Regions from separate parts of the Homo sapiens genome. Here region 1 is linked to region 2. Evidence: fine-mapped expression QTL. Tissue or cell type: fibroblasts. Region 2 holds a variant in brackets; the other region holds the start of a gene. All regions are shown on one strand. Distances are between the middles of the regions.

Region 1 (8,081 bases), 67 kb after region 2:
GGCTGCCTCGGGGGGTGGTGAGTTCCCCGTCTGTGGGGGTGTTCGAGGTGAGACCGGATGACTGCTGCTCAGAGAGGCTCGGTGTGGGGGAGGCTCTTGAATCATATGGAAGAGGACAGCAGACTGCTTGACCCCTGAGGTCCTTTTCAGGTGCAGAATGTTTTTTGGAGGGTCCCCTTTCCCCCGTGAAATTCCAGGCAAGATTGGCAGACGGTGAACAGTTCCTACCTCCCCCTTCCTTCCAGCCGTGATGATCTGGCAGAAAAAAGGGAAGACCCCATGCCTTTCCACACCCAGCCACAACCTCAGCAGCAGCAAAAACAAGACAGCACAGTGGTTAGAGGCACTGGCTCTGAAGCCTGGGTTCAAATGCCAGCTCTACCCCTATCCAGCTGTGTGACCTTTGGTAAGTTACTCAGCCTCTCTGTGCTTCACTTTCTTTATGTATAAAATAGAGATAATAATAGTGTTGTCAAAATTAGAATTAACATACATAAAGCTCCTAGTACACTGCCTGGCATAGACTAACGTGTGAAAAAAAAGTGTGTCGTATTAATGATTTTTTTAAAACTTCTCATCTCGGCCTTTTACAGTTTGCAGTACCGAGTGCCTAGTGTTTCCTCTGATCCTCACCAGGGCTTGGTGAGAAAAGTAAGCAAGACAAGTATTATCACTGCCCCTTTTACAGATGAGGAAATAGATACTCAAAGGGGAGAAGGGACCCACCCAAGGTCCCACAAATCATAAATGGCAGAGCTGGGATTCAGATTTGGTTCTGTCTAATCCCTATCCCTCGTGTCCTCCTCAACTCTGCTGGTCAATTGTCCTGACTCAGAGGGCAGTAGAAGGAACAAACAGGTCTAAAGATAAGTCGGAGTCCCATGCCAGGGTGGGCTGGGCATGAGCGGCCATGTCTGCAGGTCGCCAAGCAGCTCTCTGTGTCATGGAGAGAAGCATGGAGCGGGCTGGGCCCAGGAGCTGGTAGCTCGGGGTGCACAGGATGAGGCTGCTGCCGCCTCATGGAGCTGGGGAAGCGGGTGGGCTGGGGACAGAGGTGCAATGGAATGACTTGGTGGAGTGGGGGCCGGAGGACAGGTGCATGGGAGCATGGAGGTAGGTGGTGGGAGGGATGAGCACCAAGCTTACCTATGCTGTGCACAGCTGGGGCACAGCAGCCTGGGCGGGTGCACCCCAGTGATGCAGAGGGGGACAGATGGCTTCCAGGGGCGGCCTTGTGAGTAAGCATGAGGTGCCTGGGAATGTTCCTAAAGGTATCTATGACAGGTGTGTGCGCGTGTGTGTGCGTGCAGGGAAGGTTATGATAATGACAATAAAAATAGCTACCATTTACGGGGACCTTCTATGTGTCTTACAAATACCTCAAAGTAAGGTTTACAGAGTGCTTCGCACAAGGCCAGGCACACAGTAGGTACACAATAAACATGCTTGTTACTACTATCATTGCCATCATTGTCCTCTCAGTGAGTCCTCATAACATCCCACTAGGTAGGGATGAGGATCCCATTTCACACGTGAGGAAACTGAGGCTCACTGAGGAGCACAGCGGAGTCCCACCTTCACCCTCACCCCACCATGCCAAACAGTGGTGGTGGCAGTGGGGAAGCAGCTTCGTAAATAACAAGGTGCCACACACATCCTTGAAAGTGTGCACCAGACTATTTGTTGAATGAGTCTCCGAGAGCCCACAGGCCCATCAGTGTGGAAGGGGCAGGGGCGAGGGAGCTGCACCAACAGATGGAGCAGCAAGGTGGGTGGCGTGTGAGGACACACAATCGGGGCATCCCCGTGGGGGCTGGGCTTGGGAGCTGCGAATGAAAGGACAGTGTCTCCAGTGCACAGGCAGGTGTAGGGGCCCTTGTGCCTGAGGATTAATGCGGGGGGTGGGGCCACTTAGAAATGGGAAGGCTCCCAGGGAAACCAGGTGTAGGTGGGGGCTGGACTCCACTGGGAAGGGTCGTGGTTGTGGCCAGGAGGGGTAGGAGGCCCTGCGCCGAAGGTACAAAGATAAGTGAGTGAGAGAGAGAGAAAGTAGAAGAGAGGTTTAGGGGGTGAGCCACAGCATTAAGTGTGTTAGCAAACATGTGCTGGTGTGCACACACACGTGCACACACACAAAGGCCTGGGGCAAGGTGTTCAGCACCCAGACAGACATGCACATGGTACTTCAGGATGAGCTTGCTGGGGGGCAGGGACTGGTGTGTCTGGGAGGGTGTGCCCACATGCTGTGTAGACCTGGGAGGGATGGGGTGTCTGGAAGGAGAGGGTGTGTTGCAAGGACTGAAGGTGTATGAGGAAGAAGCACAGGTGTGCCTGCGATGGCTGTGAGCCTGGGGAGGTGAGTGGTTGGATGGGGGCTGTGTGCATCCAAGGGTGAGGGCTGGCAGTGCTGCGCTGGGGGCTCTGGGGGCACGTAGTGGCCGTGTGTGTGTTGTGTACATGGCAGCAAGGCACCTGGGGGAGGTCTCAAGGAGGCAGGCATGAGGTGGCAGCCTCTCTGGGTGGGGAGTGTGGGCTGTATGCTGCCAGGAGGTGTATTGTGTACGCAGGTGTGTGTGCCTGTGTAGGTGTGTGTCTGGGTGGGTGCCACCGAGCGCGTGTATCATTGTCAGAGTGTCTGTGTCACTGGCAAGGGTAAGCGGGAGGGAGCAGCTGGACCTGGGTAGTGACTGAGCCTGGAAGGAAAGAGGGGTCCCCACCAGCCACTCGCGCACCCAGCCCCTCCTCTCAGAACTCCAATGTCATATGGATTCAGCCCAGGCCTGGGCTGGAAAGAACTGCCCGGCAGCCGTGGCTGGTTGGTCCATCCCGCCCACCCCTGTGGATCTGAGGATAGGATGGGTCTGAGAACACTTCCTCTAGCATGAATGAAGAGCCCCCAGCCAGACCCTTCTCCCCTGTCTCCCAAAAGATCCAGCCACACCTCAGATGCCAGCATCCCTAGAGCCATCCCTGGAAGCAAGAGGAGGTAGGGACTGAGGGGCTGAAGCACCCACAAAACAGAAGGCCTCACAGTTAGCAGACTGCAGACCTCCCTCCCCTTCTCCTTCCCTCTCCCTTCTTTCTTTCTCCTTCTCTGGCAGAAGACAGAGAAAGTAAGACCCTAATGTCCACCCTCCTCCAAAAGGAACACCCAGACACTGGGAAGGTAGACAACAGGGAAGGATAAGAATGAATGGAAGAGGAGAGACGCCCACCCGCCAACACATGAAAAAACAGGGCTATCTGGAAGCCCCCAGGGCAGCCAAGGGACTGGGGACCCAAGACCCACCCCCTAAAAATCTATTTCATTATTCCAGGTGGACAGCCTCCTCCTTCACCTCCAGACACCAAGAAAAAGCCCCTCCCAGCCCTTGCTAGCTCAATGAGGCATCGAATGCCCTCTCCCAAGATTCAGGAGGGGGGTGAGAGTAAAGGAGACAACAGCACCCCAAAGCCAATTGTGCCCCAAAAGCCCATCAAGGGTTCAAGGGCTCATACCCCAACCCAAAGACCCCAGGGAAGATTGCTGCTTCAGCTGGGGGAGGAGGCTGGGACATGAGAAATGGTCCCTTCCTCTTTAGGGGTGGGGGAGCAAGCCAAGGGCCCTGCAGCTTCCTCTCCCCCTGCAGCACTCTCTGACCAGAACCCTGTCACCGCCCCCAGCGCATTCCCACCCCAGCAAAGCCCCCTCCTACTGATTTCCCAGTCTCCCTGTCTCATCACCCCCAGCCTTCCCCCGCAAGCTTCCGCTCCTCTCCCTCAGACCCCATCTTTCCCAGCTCTCCACCAGCACAGACCCATCTCTGCCTGGAGCACCTTGGCACATTCCCCTCTGCTCTCTCCCAATAACCTCTTCTCCCCTTGGCTCCCATCCCCCAGGAAAGCCTGGTCCTCAGTGGGTCCCCTCAGGACGAAGCCCTTGGCCTGGCCCCTTTCCTTCCCTCTCCACTTCTCTCTCTTCTCCAGCCCCCTCTCCTCTCCTCCCACGAAGCCCAGTTTCTCGCTGGTTAGACCCTCCAGAACACAACAGCTCCTCTGGCCCGGCGCTGCTTCAAGCCTCTGGGGCTAGCACAGACTGGGGACCCCCCTTTAAGAACCCCCTCTAAGTCCTCTGGATGCCCCTCCTCTCTCCATCCCTTCCCCCAAAGACCCTTCCTCCCACCCCTCCCCATTCTCCTCAGCTCTCAGGGCCAGTGCCCCTTCCACAGGAGCCTCCGACCCCCAAGCCCCCAGCGGCTTTGCCTCCTCGCTGTCACCGGGCCAGCCCTCTCAGCGCGGCGCCCCCGCCCCCCAATTCATCCGTCCTGCCTCCCTCGCCCCCTCCGATCCGCTCCCCTCCCCCGATCGGCTCCCGCCCCCCGCCCGTCTCCGCCGCAGCGCCCCCCCCCCCCCATTTTACCTGGTTCTCGGGGCGCCAGAAGCTGGAGGGTGGGTAGCAGAGCTACAGGGCCGCCCCGTCTCCGACGGGTGGCAGAGCCAGGGCTAGCGGTGTCTGCCGCCTCGCGCCTCTCTCCCTCCCCGCCGCGTCCCCGCCCGCCCGCCCGCCCCGCCGCGGTGCCTCTCCGAGGAGGATGCTCCGCGAGTCAGGGCGGCTGCTCCCGCCGCCGCATCCCTGCAACACCGACTGACGGCAGCATCAGCACCAGTGCCCGCCCCCGAGACGCGCGCATTGGACCACGCTGCGCTGACGGGCGAGCAGCGCAGCCAATGCAAGGGCTCAGAAGCCGCCAGTCCAGCGGCTCCACAGGCCCACTCCCTCCCTCGCGCGGGACCCAGGCGTCCCGGCCCCAGCACCCGCGCTCCTCCCAGCCTCTCGAGGTTCTCGGGCGCCCGGGCCCCCAACCAGGCGGGCCCCAAACCCGGCCTCAGTGTCTTTTCCGGGAACCCAAGCACTCTCGCCCCTCGCCCCTCGCCCCTTAGTTCGGGGCCTTGGGTCCCGCACCCTCCCCCCACGGCCAGCAGGTCTTCGCGCAGCGCGGGGCTGGGACAAGCCGAAGGAGAGGCTGTGGACCCCGACTTGGGACGCCGCGAGAGCAGGGCTGATGCGGGGCCTGGGCCGCAGCGCCCTCTGCTGGCTACCCCCAGGGGCGGGCCCGGGCTTCGAGGAGCCTAGAGAAGGGGGACTCGGTGGGTCCATGGCTGCTGGGGGCTTTTTCCAGTCGGTAGCCTGGCCCCCACCTCCCACCGTCCGGAGGGCCCCTGGCTTGGAGCCCCCAGAACTGAAGAGGAAGGGGCTTTGCTGGGATAAAGACGGAGGCGGTGGGGGAAGGAAAGGCAGAGATGGGGGCGGGGTAGACCTAGGAACTTGGGGGTTTCCCAGTCCTGCCTCATGGGAATCCCAGAGTTTGAGGCCAAACTCTCAGTTCTGCCTGGAACCCTGGACCGAGGTACGAGTAGGTGTGGGGGCAGGGTTGCGCCTGCACATGCCTGGTGACTGAGGGCACCTGGCAGCAGCCCCCTTCTCTGTTCTCCTCCTCCCATCCATGAGTTTCAGTTAGAGTGGTGCTGGGGGGCGCAGGTCTCTCCTGTAAGGGTACATGCATCACTGTGCATGTGTATGAGTGTGGGGGACTGGGGGACACCCTTCACTCACTCCGCCAATAAAAGTGTACACACACTGGCACTTAGTGTGTATACCCCGAGGTTGGTCACTGGGCTGCTGAATGAGACAGTGAGAGACAGAGTGTGTGTGTGTATGTGTGCCAGACCATTCTGCCAGCTCACTCCAGGACCCTGGTTTCTGTTGCAGGGTCTGTGATCTGCACAGCTGGTGGTAGTTGGCACTTCCTTAGCCAGAGGCAACATGCAAGAACACTTACATTCAACCACCAATGCATGGACATTGGGGCACTCACAGCCATGCACACATATCTGTGAACACTGGGCATTCCCAGAGACACATAAGAACACCTGCAGAAATGCCCCACCATGGTAACACACCCACAGGAAGCATATACTGCCCAAGAACACACACACTTGTGCACACAGGTACCTACACCAGGCAATTAATGCATGCCCAGAACAGCTGCACCCAGGGGACCTGCCCACAGTCATCCTGGACCCCTGCCCAGGCACTTCAAAGAGAGTGGTCAATTACTGAGTGGCTTAATGCGGACACCAACCCCCCGGGTGGGAAACTCCTTCCCCAGCCTGTGAAGGGGTAAGAGGGGGACCCAGGCTGCAAGGAGTTTTTCCTAGGAGTCGAGAAGGGTGATCCCTAAGCCAGGTCCCAGACTTAGGGCCCACTCTGACCTTGGAGAGACCCCCAGGGCATCCCCACCAAAGCCAATGAAGGAGCCAGAGAATGGAACTGCTGCGTCAGGGCCTATGAATGCGAAATCGCCTCCCTGACCCCACAGCCCACTTTCCTGCCCATCCCCCACTGTTCCTCTTCCTGCAGCCTCCTCACACTCACACACACACACACACACACACACACCCCTTGTCCATCCAGGCATCAGGGCATAGACAGACAGATGCAATGGCTCACAGAGACAGACTCAGACCCTTACAGAGGAGCCTGGGCAGGGAGGGAGGTAAGTATGAGCACTTGTCTCCTTTCCCTACCCCCAGCTTTGCCCATCAAGGGCAGAAAAGGTCACCGGGCAGCTGCTGCATCTCCCTGTCCCTCCCACCTACAGGGACATCTCTCCTCTCTGCAAGGTCCAAGGTTCAGATTGCCTAAGCATTTGGGACCTGCCACTTCAAGACACACCCCACACACACACACACCACACACAGGTACCCACCCAATGTGGACAGTTGAGTGATATGCTGAGCACATGCCCTTCTCCCATGTGCAAAGGCCAGTGGGGACACATGGGGGAGGGGAAACACAGCAGATACAGCATGCATGTCCATGCACACACATGCACACAGGCGCATACAATGTGAAGCTCAGACACCAAATTCAGACACATGCAACCATGAAGACCGCTACTTGTCACATCCCGGGCAGGCAGACCTGGACACACATATGCATGCATGCATACACACACACACACACACACACACACACACACACACACACACCAGGAAGAGGCCAGACTGGAACTGGAGGGTAGTGACGAGAGGAGCCAAGAGGAACCGACTGGGCTGCAGGGATGGAGGCAGCACAGGAGGCAGGCGGCACAGGAGCGAGCTGCTCTTCACAACACAATCGCCGTCTGTTGTTATAGCAACTCAGCCCCCAAATCGTGAAACGGATATTACAGCCTCAAGAGGGGGAAGGGCGGAGGGGGCTGAGGACAGAAGGAGGGGCAGGGGGGCACCCGATGCAGAGACAGGGCTGGGGGGCCCAACACAGGGTAGGCCTGCAGGAGAGATATGACCAGGAAAGAGAAGGGAGTGACCCAAAATAAAGAACAGGCCAGGGGGAGTGGGGTCTCAAAGCAGGGATGGATGTGATGTGGGGAAACCCTGGGGTGGGGGACCGGGGCACTCATGGGGGAACTGAGGCCACTGCCAGGCCCACAGATACTGTGCTTTGGAGTGGAAGGTGCTCAGGTCTCCACCCCTAGGACAATCCTACAGCTGCTGTGGGACACCTCCCAGTTTGGGGGACTGAGGAGGTAGTTCCCATTGTCAGGACTGCTGTCTGGAGTCTCCTGATCCCAGGGGCAGCCCGGCCCAGCTTCAGAACCTTTAGTAAACTCCCAGACCAGCCTCAGAAGTGGCCTTAGCCTTCTTTAGGTAGCAGTGACCCCCAAAACCTCCGTGCTGCAGGCTCAGGAGGGAAGAGCTGGGTTGGGAGAAGCCACCACCGGAGGCTGAAAGCAGGATCAATATGCATTTCCTCTGGAAGTCACTGTCCTTCCGGCTGGCAGCAGCACCAGGCCAGGAGGCTGCAAGGCGGAGGAGTGCAGCCCCCACCCTGAGGCACAAGCCCAGCAGGGCCCTCGGACTGCCCAGGGCCCTCCCTCCCTTCCCCGACAGCCAGCAACTCTGTGCTGCCCCTCTCCCTCCCACGATTCCTGCAGTGAGGGCCCTGTTACTGGAAGCGTCCAAGCAGGGGCTGAAAGGCCCCCTGTCCAGCAAGGGAATTTCGGCCATGGGCTGAAGGCTTTGGGTATGCATGACTG
Region 2 (8,098 bases):
CACTGGAGATGTGTCCACCTCCCTGGGCCCAGACCACCTACCCTCCACAGTCACGTTGTCCACAGACAGCTGCAGGCTCTTGCCACGCCGGACCACCCTCACCGTGTGCCACTCATTGTCATTGAGCTTGTGCCCCGCAAACAGCGTTTCGGGGCCTTTACCTGCGGCACCAAGGGGGGAATGAGGAGGGCACCTATACATGCTCATAGGTGACTTCCTATATCACCTTGGATACACAGACAGCCTCCCCATCCCCGCACATGCCACACATGAACACATACATGACCAGTGGCTCATATTTGGCCACGCAACACACCCATGAATACAAGTACACACACTTATAGCCTCCCATCACACCTGGAGTCCATGCACACGCAGAGCTTTTATACCCCAGTCATACATCCACTCTCAGGACTGCCCTTTGTGTGACTTTAGGAGGTGCCATGCACATAGAATATTAAGTGAATGGTGCCTCTGGAGTTGTACCCTGAGGCCCTGCACACAGACACCCACACCTATGACCAACATACTCTTCCCCCAGATTCCTAAGGGCCTTCAGTGAGTGTGGCCAGAAGCTATATTCCCAGGGTGTAAACACAGACCTAAAACTTTCAAAACTTCACACAGTACCCAAATGTAAATGCGAGCCCACAGCTTCGGCCTCTGTTACACAGACACCAGCTCCTCCATCTACAATGGGACCCGATGGGACCTTTCTACATACACATGCCTGGTTAACGTCACACACCAAGTCACGCCACCACACGTACTGCCCATAAATATGCAGGATGGCCAGAGAGGGGAAGGTTCTGTTTCTTAGGAACTATGGCCATTTACTCAAGACCAGGATTATCAGCTTCCAGAGTCTAAAACAAAACATACTTATCTTTCAAATGCTGCTGGACTTTGCAGCACTCTCTGGTCATCCCTGCCCCCCCACCCCGAGGGCTCCAGCACGCACACAGCATGCCACACACACATGAAGAGCAGGGCGCCCAGCACACACAGTCTCTCTGCCTGGGCCTACCACGTGCATGTGCTCCCCCATGTGACCCCAAGCCACACCATGCAGAAACACCCTGAGACACAGCATTGAGCCCAGGCGCACTGGGATGTCTGGAGATGTCCACCTGCTCACTCTCCATCTCACCCCTGCTGAGAGCCCTCACTGTCACCATAGAAGGAGCCCCCATTTGGCAGAAACTCACCCCAGCTAACACAGGAGCTGAAGAGGGCTCCCTTCCCACCCTCATCCTCTTTCCTGCATCCCTCGCCTTCCCCCTTGTGGCCAATTCTGGAGATGCAGCAGCGTATTCCAGCCCCTCTCAGGCTCCTCCCTGCCAGTCCATAGGACCACAGGTGCTACCCAAGACTCTGCCCCAGCCCTTGATTTCTACCTCCTCCCCACCCTCCTGCTGACTTGGGTAAAGGGTGTCCTTGTCTCTCCCTTCCTAGACCCAGTGAACATCCTGACTGCAGGCCCTCCCCCAGCTCTCCTTGGCTCTGCTTCATTTGGTCCCTCCTGCCTTCCACAACCACCCAACCTCACCCTCCTGCCTGCACCCCTCCCCACACTCAAGGCCCAACCCCCATTCGAGCCAGCAATCACGGCTTCTCTTCCTCCCAGCCTCCCTCCCTAAATCCCAGCGTCCAGCATCCCAGTCCCCTTGGGTCTCTGCAGAAGAAGAGGGAAGCCACTTACTGGGTGCGCAGCCGACGCGCAGGCAGTCTGGGGGGGCCATGGGGCGGGCAGAGGGGAAGGGGAGACAAAAAGGTAAAACAAGTTTTTTTTTTTTTTACATCCTTCACAGGGAGGGGTGTCTGCGGGCGGGGTTCCCCCCAGGGCCACTTTCCGGGGACCACGCGTGCCCAGGTGCCCTCTTCCCTTCCTCAGTTGGACCCCTGTCCCTCCTGCCCCCAAGAGGGCTCCAACCCTCCCCAGAGCTGGAAGGCAGGGCAGTCAGATGATGGGAAGAGGGCTTGTGGCCCCCTTCTTAGAGGGTACCAGGCCTCTAGTGTCTGAGGGAGACGGGCACCTTGGGAATCCCAGTCGTACAGGGGATCAATGGGGGCCGAGGGCTTGACCAACCCCACATCTCCCCTGTCTCTGGGAGGGAGATGGGTGGGGAGAGCCAGAATCCCTGCATCCCCTGCTCTGGGACGACTCCCTCCTCAGAGCCCAGGTGTGACTTGTCACTCCCTGTTCCCCTCTGGGCTCTGAGCTAAATGGAGGGGTCTGCCCCAGGGCCCCCTTCCCGAGGCCATACACCTCCCAAAGCCCCAGTGGCTAGTACCACCCCTACAGGAACCTTCCTTCCACCCTTTCCAATCCTGGGAAATGCCAGGCTGCTACTGGGGATAGATCATGGGAGTCCTTCACCCTGAAGAGGACCTAGTATTAACCTGCTTTCCTAGTCAGAGGAGCCAAGGCCTCACAGATAGAGACAGTGCAGCCCCCAAAATATGATTTCTCTGAGAACACAAAGCAGTTGGGGACAAGCAGCCACCATAAGCAAAGTTTCCTGCCCCTGCCCCAGTCCGGTCCTGGCATTGCTATCCTCTGATTTCAGGACTGGGAAGGCCCCGTGTGGCTACACAGAGCCAGCAGCCCAGGGCCCTGAAGCCTCTGGCCATCCCTCTGGTTAGACACACCACCCAAAGGTGGGAGCCAGTCAGGTCTTGCAGAGGGAACAGTGGACCAGGGTCCTATGAAGTCCAGATTTAAGGCCTTTAGGATGTCTGCACCACTCCATCAAACGCCAAGCCTGACGCAGCCCAAGGGAGGGGACTGGCTGGAGCTGCAGAAATCCTTTACTGGGAAGCAAGGGAGCTGGGTCCTCATCTCCACCCTAACACTCACTAACTCACTGTGTGACCCTGGGCAAAGCACTTCTCTCCATGCCTCAGCTTCCCTCCATGTGAGCTGAGGGAATGGATAACAGTAGGATCCTGAGCAGGAAGTAGGCAGCAGGTAGACACTGGGTTGGCTTTGCCTTTCAGAGAGGGGCAGTCTCCCGGCCCTCGATTGACAGGCCCAATACCCTGGCCTCCTGTCGCTCCACCCCAAATAGGCTCTGCCTACCCCACAGCCCAGGAAGCAAAGGGGGTGGGCAGCTGCATCCCCTGGGCCCCTGAAGGTTCCTGCAGTGGAGGTAAACTGATGCCCCTGTGGCTTTGAGGGCCACGGCCCTTCGGCAGTACAGCTGAGCTCCACACGCGTTGTCAACCGCAGCAGAAGAGTGGAGGCGAGCAGCCAGGACCCTGGGCCACAGCCTGGCACCAAGGGAGGAGCAGAGGAGCAGAAAAAGGTCAAAAGGCAGACACAGAGGGAAGTGAGAAGTCTCAGTGAGAGGAATGAGGTAGAGAGAGTGCAGAGAGAAAAGAGGAAGAAAACGGAGCAGAGGAAGGAGCGGCTGCACAGAGGGGACAGGGGAGGCTGGACAGAAGAGGAAGGGGAGGACTGTTAGGGTGAGGGTAGAAGGGTGCCAGGCCCTGGAGTCAGGTCACGGGGGCTCTCTCGGGGCCAGCAGAGTCTTCACCAATGAAGGGTCCAAAAAAAGAAAAAAGGGGAGGCTGGATGGGCAAGCAGGTCCCCTACTGGGGAAAAGACCCAAAGAAGGAGCTTGATTCTTCTCCTTCCCCAGCAAGGGAGCACCAGGAATGGGGGGTCCATCTGTCCAGAGAAGAGGTGTCAGCTCCAGGCCCACCCCTGCAGAGACTCCACCCTCAGAAACACAGGCTCCAGTAGGGTTTGCAAGAGCAAACGACTTGAAGATGGGCACCCAGAGGGAAGCCAGCCCCATCCAGAAGAAAGCCAGAGACTGAGAGTGAGCAGGAGAAACCCAGCCTCTTCAACATACACATTCACCAAAGTTCAGGGGGCACTAACTAGTAACCTGTTAACTAGTGACCTGTGCCTCAAGTGCAGGGAATAGGCAGAAGTGAGTGGTCTTCGTGGCACAGACCCACGAAGGCCCTGGCTGGACAGAGAGAGCAGGGTCGTAGTATGAACACGTGTTGGGGAGGTAAGACAAAGCAGTCTGCATGGAAAGGAACTCAGGGGAAAGAACACTGGCTTCCCAGCCCTGCCTCACCTGGGTTCCTTCCCCGCCCAGGCCCTGTGGGTTGGAGACAGTGGGCCCAAGGCTCCCAGGCATCTGTCTCAGAAGTGACATCACAGAGTGGCAGCATGCACTCTGTCATAGCCCTCCTTCAGAGCTGGCTCCCAGCAGCCCCCCTGATAATTACTGATCAGCCTCAGGTGGAAAGGCAATGTACCCTCCCATGGCCCCAGGGATTAAAGGGCTTTGGGATACAATGTGTATTTAGCCTGATTTAAAACACAAACGGGAGTTAGATTTCTCCGTTTGATTCCAAGGGGCAGAACTAA[C/CGGGAATTTCACAATAAGT]GGGAATTTCACAATAAGTGGGAATTTCACAATAAGTGGGAATTTCAGAAGGGCAGGGTGACACTAAGAAAGAACCACTCAATGATCAGAATGGATCTTGGAGGTGGGAGGTAGAAGGCCTCCCACTGGTAGGGAGTGTATGGGTGATTCATGGGGTGGGGAGGGATGCTGAAGGAGGTAACCCCCTTGCAGCTCAGAGATTCTTTAATTACACCACACCCTTCAGGTCAGCTGCACTGACAGCTGGGACCCCAGGGGCACACCTAGTAGAGGACAGTGCCCAGCCTGGCCTGTCCTCTCCTCCCCTCCAGGGAGGGGCCCAGGCCATGCTGGGATAGGGCAAAGAATCCAGGGGACTCTACCATCCTCTAGGGACAGAGATCAACTCCCCAACTCAGGGGCTGCAGACAGCAGAGCTCAAGGAACTTGCTCAGTGTTTGCAAACATAGTGGGGGCTGGGAAGCTGCAGCAGGAGGCACGATAAGTTCCTTAGGATCCTCTGCCTGGAAAGAGGCAGCAGTGCCTTTTTGTCCCTCTCTTATCTAGCAAATATCCCATCTCTTGAGGCTAGCACTAAGCGATCCCACCTAGTGGTCACCCGCAGCCTCCGCTCCCTCTTCAGGCCCAGCCTGGGGCCTGTTTCAATCCACTGAGTGCCTGTGGAGCTGCAGAGCTGCCTCCTGGAGCAATAGCTTCCCTCTACAGGATAAGATCATGAGGCCAGAGACCAAGCCTCACCAGGCTTCTCTCTCTTCCCCAGTAGTGAGTCCAGCCCAGGCCTGGGGCCTTGGTGTTGCTGCCGGTCTGTGAGGCCCTGCAAGTCCTGGGGAGCAAGCAATGGGGGACAGGAATGGGGCTCTTGAAGTGATTCACGTGGGCCAGGAGGCTGAAGGAGGTGACGCCTTGTGGTTCAGAGATTCTTTACACTGCACTTTTCCCATCAGCTGCACTGACAGCTGGGACCCCATGGGCACACCTAGTAGAGGACAACTCCAGTCTGTCCATGCTATGTGGAAGTGGCCCCCAGGCCTGGCTCCAAACTCAAGTCTCTATTCCAATATGGTTTTGTTTTCCTTCAAGAAGGCTGGGTGGGTCTCTACTATGGGTCTTGCATCTACACAATGGTTTCAATGGTTTCATTCCCATTCTTCCATCTGAGCCTCAAAACCACCACAGACGTAGGCAGAGTGAAGATTCTTATCTCCATTTTAAAGATTAAAAAAAAGAGAGAGAGACTCAGAGATGGGAAATGACTTACCCAACAGTAAAAGATACCAAAGTTAGGCCCCAGGTCTTCTGGCCCGGAGCCCAGAACTCTTCCCATCCCAACCCAAGGCTTGGTGGCTGGGTAGGGGCCACCTGCGTGTCCACAGTGCCTACAGAGGAGGAATCTGTAGACGGATGCATTTGCACCAAGCCTTTGGTCACAGATTGTCAGGAGTCATGCTAGAGATGGCATCTCAGCACACACATGTCTACAGATGGGGGCAGGGGCACAGCCAGGAGTAAGAAATGGGTGGGAGGAGAGTCCTGTTATCTGTCAGTCTGGGAAGCCTATTCTTAACATGATGTGTCTTCCAAGAGGCCACCTTGTTATCTGACTTCTGAGCACTTATGTGGCACAGACAGAAAAGTGTGCCCATGGAGAGGAGAGGGTGGGTCCCAAGGGCCCACAGGATAGGTTTTCCTGACCAAGGACATTGTTTCCTGTCTAATCTTAAGAGACACAATCTTCTTCCCAGGGGCCTAGGACAGTCCAAATAAGCAAAATGCATCTGCCTTCCCTGCAGATCCAAGGCCCCAGATTTTTCCTGCTGTGTCCCCAGCAAGCACAGAGACATGTGTTTAGATGCAGACAACACACATATGCCCAGGCAAAGTAGGGGGGAACTCACACTGGATACACAAATCTGGGCAGACTTGGAAGTACAGAGCCACTTATGGGGTCCTTGGCTGGGGCTATCCTCTTGTGACAGTTTCAGGGATGCAAGGGAGCATTGTGCAGACTTGTGGAGCATTGACTAGAGTGTCTCCCAGCCTGCTTTCCCCTGCAGAGCTGCTGCACACCACCCGCTCTACAGGCTGTGATCGTGGTTAGAAACAGAGCTGAGGGGAACCCTTCAAACAACTCTGAGGCCCTGGCCACCTGCATATCTCCCCACCTCCAGTCCCCACCTCTCTCAGCAAATCTTTGTCCTAGGAATACAAAGGCCAGGTGGCCAAAAGGGGAAAAGGAAAGAACATAGTATAAATACATTTACAAGGCAATGGGTTCCCCAAAGGCCACAGTCTGTCCCACAAATGCCCCGGAGACCAATGTTAGGATGAGACTCCAGATGAGTATTTAAAAGTTCAAAGTTCAGCCAGGCACAGTGGCTCATGCCTGTAATCCCAGCACTTTGGGAGGCCGAGGCGGGTGGATCACGAGGCCAGGAGATCAAGACCAGCGTGGCCAAGATGGTGAAACCCCATCTCTACTAAAAATACAAAAATTAGCCAGGCGTGGTGGCGGGTGCCTGTAATCCCAGCTACTCGGGAGGCTGAGGCAGAGAATCACATGAACCCGGGAGGCAGAGGTTGCAGTGAGCCCAGATCACGCCACTGCACTCCCACCTGGGTGAAAGAGCGAGACTCCATCTCAAAAAACAAAAAAAATGGTCAAAGCTCTGTATTCTCTCCAGTCGAGGATTCTAACCTGCTCAGAAGAGCCCTGCTTCCCCTCTAGGTCCAGGATACAACAAGTGACCCTGATGACCTGCAAGCTTCCTATACGGCTGGTGCTACACCTTTATAAGCTTCTAGAGGCCAGTCTGAAATGGACAGATTTGACCTCAGCCTGAACAGCTTAGGACCTCTCATTCCCAGGGTTCCCCTGCTCTGAAAGCTCCAAAGGGGTGGGGACTGCTTATTCACTGCTGTAGCCCCTGGCTTGAACATACCTAGCATTTATATGGTGTCCCATAAATAGCTGAATGAGTGAACCTGCTGTTTTCTTTTTGCCCTGACTAGGAGAGCTGAAGCCCGTGAGAAGAACCTAACAGGCTCATGGTCTGGCCCTCATGGACACCCCGGGGACCACCAGGTGAAGTGGAGTCAAGGCCTGCTCTCAACCCTGGGCATGGGTGGAGACATGAGTCAGCATGAGTGGCCTGAGGGGGAGGGTCAGCAGCCCTGTCCGAGGCAATGGGAAAAGCACTGAATTTTAAGGCAAATGGCCCAGGTTGAGTCCTGGCTCCTCCCTCTGCCTTCACTAGTTTTGTAATGTTGAACAAGTCAATACATGAATTTCATAATCTATAAAACAGGGACAGTAATGCTTGTTTGGTGATCTAGTGTCTTCACAGGACAGCCATGAGGCTCAAATGTGAAAGCTCATGGCACTAGAAACGGGAAGATGGCACGTCTGTGTGTCCAGTGTACACACATGCACCTCCACACACCAACACACAGACTGCTGTTTAGACTGAGCAGAGCAGTGGGGGGCAGCTGCGTGCATGGACCAGGCCTTCCTCATCTCTGTATCTGCCACCACACTGAGCTCAGGCTTAGCACCCACTAGGCGTCAGCAAGTGCTTCTCAAATGAATGAACCAATGAATGAGCAAGTGGATGAGCCATTGACCAAAAATGAGCTGTGTCATCTGTGTGTGTGCAGGACAGATGCTACCAAGATCCACATGAGTCACCAGGGAGGACAGTTAGCATACCC

Direction of the effects. Positions count from the first base shown, and alleles are read on the strand shown. Sizes are in standard deviations (SD) of each study's normalised expression.
As copies of CGGGAATTTCACAATAAGT replace C in region 2, the expression in fibroblasts of the gene that starts at base 4,626 in region 1 goes up (small effect, 0.37 SD a copy in GTEx).

Evidence for each region. PIP is the estimated chance that this variant, and not a neighbour inherited with it, causes the effect.
Region 1: it holds the start of NRXN2, and the variant in region 2 is fine-mapped to the expression of NRXN2 in fibroblasts (GTEx, PIP 0.99).

The regions. Positions count from the first base shown.
Region 1 is chr11:64,718,572-64,726,652 of GRCh38, forward strand. It overlaps NRXN2 (neurexin 2), which reads right to left and starts at 4,626. Exons shown (of 23, transcript NM_015080.4): 1 at 4,400-4,626. RefSeq lists silencers at 4,506-4,800, 4,787-5,086 and enhancers at 5,467-5,516, 6,726-7,564.
Region 2 is chr11:64,651,994-64,660,091 of GRCh38, forward strand. NRXN2 (neurexin 2) reads right to left here. Exons shown (of 23, transcript NM_015080.4): 12 at 1,703-1,729; 13 at 42-161. Among named protein-coding and RNA genes, the nearest start is that of NRXN2-AS1, 12 kb to the left of the region's middle. RefSeq lists enhancers at 1-229, 1,572-2,072, 3,034-3,193, 4,684-5,185, 5,186-5,685 and 2 more. The variant C/CGGGAATTTCACAATAAGT (reference allele first, on the strand shown) is at 4,391.